Regions from separate parts of the Homo sapiens genome. Here region 2 is linked to region 1. The links come from fine-mapping of genetic effects on gene expression. Tissue or cell type: whole blood. Region 1 holds a variant in brackets; the other region holds the start of a gene. All regions are shown on one strand. Distances are between the middles of the regions.

What was found. PIP is the estimated chance that this variant, and not a neighbour inherited with it, causes the effect.
Region 2: CDH23 starts here. The variant in region 1 is fine-mapped to the expression of CDH23 in whole blood (TOPMed, PIP above 0.99).

What each region holds. Positions count from the first base shown.
Region 1 is chr10:71,787,253-71,792,252 of GRCh38, forward strand. CDH23 (cadherin related 23) reads left to right here. Exons shown (of 70, transcript NM_022124.6): 45 at 1,688-1,790; 46 at 3,036-3,161; 47 at 3,880-4,083. It overlaps MIR7152 (microRNA 7152), which reads left to right and starts at 3,495; the gene lies at 3,495-3,548. RefSeq lists an enhancer at 3,036-3,935. The variant C/G (reference allele first, on the strand shown) is at 3,108.
Region 2 is chr10:71,394,037-71,399,036 of GRCh38, forward strand. It overlaps CDH23 (cadherin related 23), which reads left to right and starts at 2,884. Exons shown (of 70, transcript NM_022124.6): 1 at 2,884-3,282. RefSeq lists a silencer at 2,403-2,492 and an enhancer at 3,176-3,687.

The DNA.
Region 1 (5,000 bases):
ACCCAAGATCACCCAGAATAGGGTCTTCAACCCAGGTCTTTGAACCCTGGTGTGGGCGCTTTTCAGATTTTTTTTTTTTTTTTTTTTTTAGATTCAGGGAGTACAAGCACAGGTTTCTTAACATGTCCATATTGTGTAGTGGTGAAGACTGGGCTTTTAGTGTACCCATCAGGTGTACCCAAAACTACCTATTATGTCCAATGTTCACTGAACTGTGAACTCACTGCCACTCACTGAACAGTGAACATTGTACCTAATAAATAATTTTTCAACCCTCACCCTCTTCCCATCCTCCCACCCTTCTGAGTCTCCAATGACTCTTATTCCATTCTGTATATCCATGGTTACACATTATTTAGCTCCCACTTATAAGTGAAAATATGCAATATTTGACTTTCTATTTCTGAGTCATTTCACTTAGGATAATGGCCTTCAGTTCCATCCATGTTGCTGCAAAAGACACGACTTCACTCTTTCTTACGGTTGAGTAGTATTCCATGGTCTATATACCACATTTTCTTTAGTCAGTCCTCTGTGGATGGACACTTACATTGATTCCATATCTTTGCTATTGTGAATAGTGTGGCGATAAACATGTGAGTGTAAGTATCTTTTTGATATAACGATGTATTTCCCTTTGGGCAGGTACCCAGTAGAGGGGTATTGTGGGATTGAAGGGTAATTCTGTCTTTAGTTCTTTGAGAAATCTCCATATTGCTTGCCACAGTGGCTGAAGGAATTTACATTCCCACCAGCAGTGTATGAGCATTCCCTTTTCTCTGCATCCTCACCAGTGTCTGTTGTTTTTTTCTTGAGATGGTGTCTTGCTCTCTTGCCCAGGCTGGAGTACAGTGGCACAATCTCGGCTCACTGCAATCTCTGCCTCCTGGGTTCAAGCGATTCTCCTGTCTCAACTTCCCAAGTAGCTGGGATTACAGGTGTAAGCCATCATGCCCAGCTAATTTTTTTGTATTTTAAGTAGAGACAGGGTTTCACCATATTGGCCAGGCTGGTCTCGAACTCCTGACCTTAAGTGATCCGCCCACCTCAGACTCCCAAAGTGCTGGGATTACAGGCGTGAGCCACCATGCCCAGCATGTTGTTTTTTGACTTTTTAATAATAGCCGTTCTGACTGGTGTGAGAGGGTACCTCACTGTGGCTTATTGCATTTCTCTGATGATTAGCAACACTAAGCATTTTTTCTTTTTTTCTTTTTTTTTGAGATGGAGTCTTGCTCTGTCATCTGGGCTGGAGTGCAGTGGCGTGATATCCGCTCGCTGCAAGCTCCGCCTCCTGGGTTCATGCCATTCTCCTGCCTCAGCCTCCCAAGTAGCTGGGACTACAGGTGCGTGCCACCACGCCCAGCTAATTTTTTGTGCTTTTAGTAGAGACGGGGTTTCACCATGTTAGCCAGGATGGTCTCGATCTCCTGACCTCGTGATCTGCCCGTCTTGGCCTCCCAAAGTGCTGGGATTACAGGCATGAGCCACTGCACCCGGCCACATTTTTTCATGTTTGTTGCCCTCTTGTATGTCTTCTTTTGAAAAATGTGAGTTCATGTTGGTGTGGGCTTTTCTGATCATCCACCTCTGTGCCCCAATCCCCAACCTCCCAACCCTCCTCCCACCTAGGTGGGGGCACTTTGCTGAGCATGGCCTACAACGTGCCCCATTCTGCCCCTTGCAGGATTATGACTTGCTTCTGATCTTCCTTTCTGATGAGAATGACAACCACCCCCTCTTCACTAAAAGCACCTACCAGGCAGAGGTGATGGAAAACTCTCCCGCTGGTAGGTGCTGGGCCCACCCGGGAGCTCCTGCTGTTGCCAGGCACCACTGGGGCCTGGGATGCCTGAGGACCTCCCTTATGCCTAACGGCATAGCTGAACCTAGACCCCAGTGGGTGCGGGAGGGGAAGGATGGGTGCAGCTCCGGGAGATGGTGGGCTGGGGCTCCCGGGCCTCCTATGAGCACAAAGAAGCCACAGGTCTGGTTGGAAGAGACAGTCGTGGTCATTGTTCCCCAGGGTGGTCTGAGAGCTGCCCCACCATCCCTCAAGAAGGGCATGTAAGGTGTGAGGACTACCCCGGAGGGGAGTGGGTCCACCCCTCACTGCTCCCTCCACCCCAGGAGTGCAGGGCATCCCAGGGCCTTCTGGAAGCCCTGGGGAGCATCTATAACTAGAAGTGGGAGGTCAGGGGGTCCTGGGTAGGCCAGTGTAGCCCTCTCCCCACACACATGCACTGACCAGGCTCACCTCCCTCCAGAGGGACAGAATCTCCTCTGTGATGTCCCCTGAGGTGGCACCTGCACTCCTCCAGTCTCCCCAGCCCCTGTTCCTCATCTCTGGCTGGGCATCCCCCCTAGGTGAATTTCATTCTTAAACCTGTCTGTGTGTATGCTCACACATGTGCCCGTGTGTGTCCATACCAAGGCATGTGCGTGGGGTTACACATGTGCACAGACACATATAGGTACATGGGTGCCCACTGATGCGCTCGTGTGCAGACATGCCCACCTGCAGAGGCACACGAGTGCACAACCAGGGAATCCCAGGCCTGTGCGTGCTCCTGGACAAGTGCCTGTGGCCATGTGAACACAGAACTTGATGCACACATGAGTGGGTTTTTCTAGTCATGTATGGCCAGGCCCCCAAAGGCAGAGCATTGTGTGAACACATGTGTTGACAGGCGAGACCCACACATGGGGAGGGGATGTCAGGGAGCCCCAGACCCTCCCGAGGAGCGGCCAGCCTCAAAGGCTGCTGGGAAGGCAGATGTGGCTCTGGGCAGCCGGGGCCTTGCTCACCACTCTCATGTTTTCTCCCCAGCAGGGCTTTGAGGCCGCTCCCCAGGCATCTGCGTTCAGTCTGCCAAGGCTGCCGCAGGCCCGCCCCCAGGGCCTCCCCACCCTGTCCACCTCACCTCCCTCCCCTCTCATCCATCGTCAGCCATGGCTCACCGGGACAGGGCAGGGGAGGTGGGAGGGCAGGGGGCTGGGTTGGTCTTGTGGTGACCCCTCTCCTTCTGGCCCAGGCACCCCTCTCACGGTGCTCAATGGGCCCATCCTGGCCCTGGATGCAGACCAAGACATCTACGCCGTGGTGA[C/G]CTACCAGCTGCTGGGTGCCCAGAGTGGCCTCTTTGACATCAACAGCAGCACCGGTGAGGCCTCTGTGCCACCCAGCACTCCCAGCCTGATTCTGGGGTGGGGATGGCCACACTGCTGGATTGAGGGCCTCCCTTCTCAGTGCTGGACCCAGGCTGTCCGTGGAGACCCCATTTTTCACAGCCCAGAGTCCCCATCTTGCAGCTGGGTTATATCACCCAGTGGCCTGGCAGGGGGACGTGGGAAGAGGCTTGGAGACGATACACAGGACCTCTGTTGGTGCACGAACTCTCAGCCTGGGCCGGGAGCCCCCCAGCCCACTCCCGTCATCTCCCCATGCGCAGGCCAGAGGCTCAGGCCCCTAGTCCAGCAGAAGTAGCCAGAGCGACTTTCCTGTCCTCCAACCAGACCATGCCACATCCGTCTGGTCCTGGACAGGAGGCCGCTTTGGTGACAGGTGCCGACAGGAAAGCACATCTGTCAACAGAGACGGTCAACCCTGTGCCCTGGGTCACTCTTCCCAGGCAAGAGTCTTGAAGACAGCAGAGGGCACCTGCAGAGGGGACAACCACAGGAAATGCATGGGGCCCTCCCTCAGCACGGGTGGTTGAGCCTGTGGGGGAGAAAGTCATTTTGTTACTGCCTCTGCTCCTCTTTCATCTCTGTCCCATGGTGCCCCTGTCTTTCTCTGCTCTCTCCCTGTTGGTTCTTGCCCTGTCTTCCCACCGCACCCCTTTTCTGTGTGTTTCCCTGGCTGGCGGCACCGGGTGCCAGGTGTGGTGACCGTGAGGTCAGGTGTCATCATTGACCGGGAGGCATTCTCGCCACCCATCCTGGAGCTGCTGCTGCTGGCTGAGGACATCGGGCTGCTCAACAGCACGGCCCACCTGCTCATCACCATCCTGGATGACAATGACAACCGGCCCACCTTTAGCCCTGCCACCCTCACTGTCCATCTGCTAGAGAACTGCCCGCCTGGTAAGCAGGGGACAGGCCCCAGCACCCCACAACCAGGGGCCGGTTGGTGGTCACAGGGGACTGGAGCCTCAGGTTGGACACGGAGTTTGCCTCCAGTGGGGAGAAAGATGGGCAGCAGGGTGAGTGTAGAACACACTGGAGAGGGAGTCAGGAGACCTGGGCCCCTGCTTCCCTCCTCTGAGCTTCTGTATCTTGCCTGCAAAACAAGATTCTTTTTTCCTTTCTTTCTTTTTCTTTTCTTTTCTTTTTTTTTTTTTAAGACGGAGTTTTGCTCTTGTTGCCCAGGCTGGAGTGCAATGGCACAATCTCGGCTCACTGCAACCTCAGCCTCCCAGGTTCAAGTGATTCTCCTGCCTCAGCCTCCCGAGTAGCTGGGATTACAGGCGCCCACCACCACACCCAGCTAATTTTTGTATTTTTAGTAGAGACGGGGTTTCACCCTGTTGGCCAGGCTGGTCGCAAACTCCTGACCTCAGGTGATCCACTCGCCTCAGCCTCCCAAAGTGCTGGGATTACAGGTGTGAGCCACCACGCCTGGCCTACAAGATTCCTAAGTATTCTCCATTTGAATTCCCAGATGGAAAGACTGACTATTTTAAAGTCAAAATAGGATCAACATGATTCCCATCAAAATCAAATATAACTTCTGGAAGAATAAGAAAATTTTGAAAAACATAAGTATAATAAGCCAGATTTGGCTTACCAGATTTTATAACATATTATAAAGCTACAGTATTTAAGGCCATGCAATATGGGCACAAGACTCCAGGACAAAGTAGCCCAGAAACAGATACTGGTAAATTAAAGAATAAAATATGATGTGATAAAGGAAGCAATGAGGCCAATGGGGAAGCTACTTATTCAGTGTGCAAAAACCTATTTAATCTAATCAATTACATCCAATTATTATAATCTGT
Region 2 (5,000 bases), 390 kb before region 1:
CAAGGCCAAGAGAGGTCCAGTGTCCAGCCCGCTACCATCCAGCTAGAGGGTGACCTAGAACTCAGATCCCGCTCTCCGGACTCCTGGCTCCATCACACTGTGTAAAAGCATGACCACCTAAGACATGTAGGACCACGACTCCAGTTCATTTGTCCAAGAGCCTACTTGGCATCTCTGTTCTGTGACTGCACAGGCCTCTCACACAACATGTCCCAAGGGAGCTCTTGCTCAGGTCTCCATAGTGGCCTCCTCAGAGGGCCCCATCACAGGAAACAGCACACTGTCCATCTACCACCACAAGCCAGAAACCCAGAAGTCTCCTTGACCCTTTGCTCTATCTCACGTATAACCACTCCCTGTCCTCCTGGCCCTGTAGATTTTTACCTCCTGAAAGTCACTTCTCTCCACTTCTACCCACCCCCTCATTCCAGGCCTCTGTCACCAATCACCTAGACACTGCAGCAGCCTGAGGACATGTAAGCTTCACCAGGGCAAGGATTTGTTTGGCGCAAGCATGCGTGTCTGTGTGCATGTGTGTGTGCCTGTGTGTGTGTGCTTGTGTGTGTTGTTCATTGACATATCCAAAGTGTCTAAATTCACAGGGGTTAACTAACGTTTTCTGTAAAGGGCCAGGCTGTAAATATTTCTTGTTTTTGCAGGCCATGCGGTCCCTCTTGAAATTCCTTATGTCTGTAGTTGTAGTGTGAAAGGAGACACAACCAAACAGGCCATGTCTGTGTGCCACTAAAACTTTCTTTACAAAAACATGTGATGAGGCAGATTTGACCTCTGGGTAGCGGTGTGCTCACCCCTGGTCTAGAAAATTTCTTGGCACATAGTATTTGACAAATAAATACTTTTAATTGAAGCAGTCTCTTCTCATCAACTGTTGCCTCCCAATCAATTCTCTCTCTCTCTTATTTTTTTTTAGATAGAGTCTTAGTGATCCTACTGCCTCAGCCTCCCAAAATGCTGCCATTATAGGTGTCAGCCACCAAGCCCGGCCTCTGAAGCTTTCAGTCTTAGGATAAAGATCAACTCCTGATTAAGGCCAACACACCTGCACAGTCTGGCCCCCACTCCATTGTGGCTTTACAGTCACTGCCAAGGACTAGAGGGACCACTCAGTGACTCGGATCAGAGAGGGGGTGCTTAAAGCCAACAGATGGTGCAGGCTCACTCACCCTCCCAAGCTTCCCAGGAGCGTTTCCTCGTACGCTGGAGGCACGGAGCTCTCCCCACCCTTTCTGGACTTCCTGACATATGCCAGCTCCTTCCCACCTTTGCACAAGTTGATTGCGACTGCGGTCACCAAACCATTGTTCCTGGCCCAGCCGTTGCCTGCAGTGGGCACCTGGGGCCTTTGCACATGCTGTTTCTCCTGCCTAAAACTCCACTCTCTCTCCCTTGCTCATCCTTCAGCTCAGTCACCTCCTCTAGGAGGTCTTCCCTGATCCCCTCGGCCAGGCGCCATTAAAGCACTCTTCTTCCTAGCACTGATTCTGGCTGTAATTTTACCTGCTTATGTGTTTCATTGATGAATGTCTGGTTCCCCTACTAGAGAAGCTTCATGGGGCACAAAGACCAAGCCTGTTTTGTTCTCCATCCTATTCCTAGAAACTATTTCAGTTAGCTAGCACATAGCAGTGACTGTGAATGAATGAATGAATAATGAATGAGCGAATGGTAAGGAACTGGAGCTTTGGAACCAGATAGATTCTGGGTTCAATACCCGACTCCACCACAGGGGCAAGTCCCCAACCTCCTAAAGCCTGTTTCTCACTGTAAAACTGGGATAATGGCAGGGCCCACCAGAAAGACTTTATTGAAGATAGAATGAGTTGAGGCCCAGAAAGTCTCAGCCCAGAGCCTGGCTCCAGGCAGGTACTGTCAATGTACTGACTGGAACAGTGACAGCTCGGAAATCCTGTCATGTGAGAAATAGTTTTAAAAAATCAGAATGCTTAGCCCCGGGGAAGTAAAGATCAAAGGTAGGGGATAAACCTCTTCCATTACCTGCATATGGACCCTTTCTTGATCCAGCTGTCTCAGAAAGCCATAAAGTCTCTGTCCCTATAGGTGTGCAAAAAGGAGCCGGGAGACCATGACTCGGGCACTGCAGACGGAGCTCCCGCAGGGGTGAGGGCGCCTAAGTGACCTCACGGGTCTCCTCCAACCCGGGGTCCTCCATTTCTAAGCACTTGGAGGCCTCTTGAGCTCTAGTGAGGGAGGAGGCGCAGATGGGAGCGCACGAGTCGGGTGGGCAAAGGCAGCTGGTTGGAGAGAAGCGTAGGCCAAGAGGCCCCAAGGACTAGAGGGACTGCTCAGCGACTCTGGGAGCAGAGAGGGGGCGCTTAAAGCCAACAGATGGCGCGGGCTCACCTAGGCCGAGCGCCCGCTCGCCCGCCCGGGCTTCCCGGGAGCGTTACCTCGCTCTGCCTGAGGCGCGGGGCGGACGAGACGCTGGGGGCCCCATCCCCCTGCGCGCCCCTCTGCGGGACGGCTGGCGGCCTGGCGGGGCACTGCTCTGTCTCGCACCTGGGGCCTCTTCCGCGGGCTTCCTCCCTGCCCCTTTGGGGGATTCGTAGAGTTGCCACAGCAGCCGGTGCCATGACATCGGCAGAGGGCAGCTTCGCCAGCACTGAAATATTCATGCCCTGAGCGCCCGGCGGGGCTCGGCGCCGCTCCCGGGGGTCCGGGCGGGGCCGGGCGGGAGCTCGGGGGTCCTGGCGGCCTGAGGGGTGGGGGAGCGCCGAGCGCGGGCGGGCGGGCGGGGGCCGGGCGAGGCGGGAGGTGAGGGAGGGAGCTGCGGGAGGCGGGGTCTGGACGGCGGGGGCCGAGCGGGGCGGGGGCCGAGCGGGGCGGGGGAAGCAAGGGAAAGTTGATCGCGGACTTGAGCGGCGGCGGCGGCTCGGGAGAGAGGGACGCGGGCTGCAGGCGCGATGCTTGGCTAGAGGACGCGTCCGACGGCGGCCGGACGCTGAGGTGGTCGGGGCTAGTCAGCCCGGCCTGGGCATGGAGCGCGGGGTGGCAGAGCCTCTGGACGTTTGGGGCGCGCCCAGTCCGAGCCCCCGGCGCGCCTGAAGTTGCGAGCGGCGAGCGGCGAGCGGCGAGCGGCCCGCGGAGACCCAGGAGCTGCCGGCACGCCGCGGATGAGCCTTCGCGCCGGCGGGAAGACGCGGCGGTGGCCAGGGCCAGAGCAGGCGGCCCGCGGGGGCCGATCCGGCGGAGAGCAGAGCCCGAGGCGAGGCGAGGCGCGGCGCCGCTGCACACACGCACACGGTACCCGGAGCCACGCACCGCCTCTTCCCTCCTCGCTTCCCTCTCCTTCCCCTCGCCGTTCGCCCGCCGCGCGGCGGGGAAGTTGGTGGTGACCGCGGCTGCCGAACCACTTGTTCCCAGCGCGGCCATCGCCCGTGGCGGGCGCTCGCGGCATCCTTCGGTCCCAGGCCCCTGGCCCTAGCCTCGCGCCCCGCTCCGAGCTCCCCGACGCGCGGCAACTTTGATTCCTGGGAACTCGAATTCCATTCGCGTTGGCCTTGGGAGGACAGGCATCCCATCCCCCATCCCCGGTCCTGGGACCGCGAACATTTGGGGGCTTTGCTCTCGGCGCTACGGAGAGGGTCCAGGTCTGGGGTGGAGAGATTTTCGAGAGTGGAGCGCGTTGGGATCCAATCCCCTCCCCTTCTGAGCCCTGGGTCCCCATTTGGACAGTGGGGATGGGGTGGGGCGCACCCCTACTGCGGGCTGGGCAGAGGCGCTGAGGGGAACTAAAGGCACGTAGTTCTCCCCTCCCCTCATCAAGTCCCTGTGCCCGCGGGAGACCCCAGGGGACTTACACATCCTCCCAAATTCGGTCCAGCTATGGGAAGACGCGCCCCTCGAGGAGCCGGGAGCCTTTTGCGGCTCTCGCTTCGCCTTCCTGGCCCTGGAACTGGTCCGCTACGAGCGGTGCTGGCTGCCCCCAGGAGCTGGCACCCGGGAGCACTGCCCCTCATCTCCACCGTAGGTCAGCCCAGGACTCGAGCAGAGCCCGCGTGTTCCAAGGCAGTGACGGCGCCAGCCGGCGGGGACTCTGCCTGGCTTTCTCGGAGCGGGCACCTAGAGAGGCTGCCTCCGTGCTGTGAGCGGAGATCCGATGCCAGCCGCCGCCCCACTGCGACCCCAGCCCCAGCCCTAGTGCTGTCAGCGGTCCACTGGGAGGAAATTAGCCTTTCCTCGGTAGTAATACTCCCCCATCCTCCCTAGTAATTCAGAAAGCAGAGCCTTCTTTTTCTACGTCCTTTGCCCTCTCAGACCAGAGCTGGCATTGACATTGACCTCGCCTTCCAGCCCCTTGGGAAGTGCCCCAACCCTAATTTGGATTTTGAAATAAGCTAGAGAGACACAGGAGTGTGTGTGTGTGTGTGTGTGTGTGTGTGTGTGTGTGTGTGTGTGTGTTGGGTGGAGTCAGACCCTCACACAGGGAAGAATTAGGTTGTGGGGTGTGGGGTGGGGCGGGCTTTAAGAACCTAGTTGGGGCCAGTTGCATGGTGATGATGAGTCAGCCCACGATGGGGAGAGCTGGCTTGGAGTTAGTGCTTGGTTCGTGGTGCAGGGGTAGGCGCACTGCGGTCAGCACCTACAGGGGTGGGGGCACTAGATGTTACTCTGCCAAGGAGGAGCTGGGAAGGGGCCCCTTGCCTGGGGGAATAGCAAGGCTTGGTTCTGGCTGCCAGGGCTGGGGAGGGCAGGAAGGCAGAGTGTCTCGTGGTAGAGGGTGGGTGTCCCCCGTGAGTTGGGAAGGTGGCACACAGAAGCCACTGGTGTGAACCAGGAAGCTCTGCCTCGAGTGCTGGAGGACAGCAGTGAGGGGTGGGAGGCCCAGAGCTAGCATCCTGGCCCCGTCTGTGCTGGGTCCGCATATACTTCTCAGACTTGGCCTTCCTCACCTCTAAACAGCTGGGCTCCTCACGTCTGCTTACCAAAGGGCTTGATTTGAGGGTTGTGATAGCAGATGG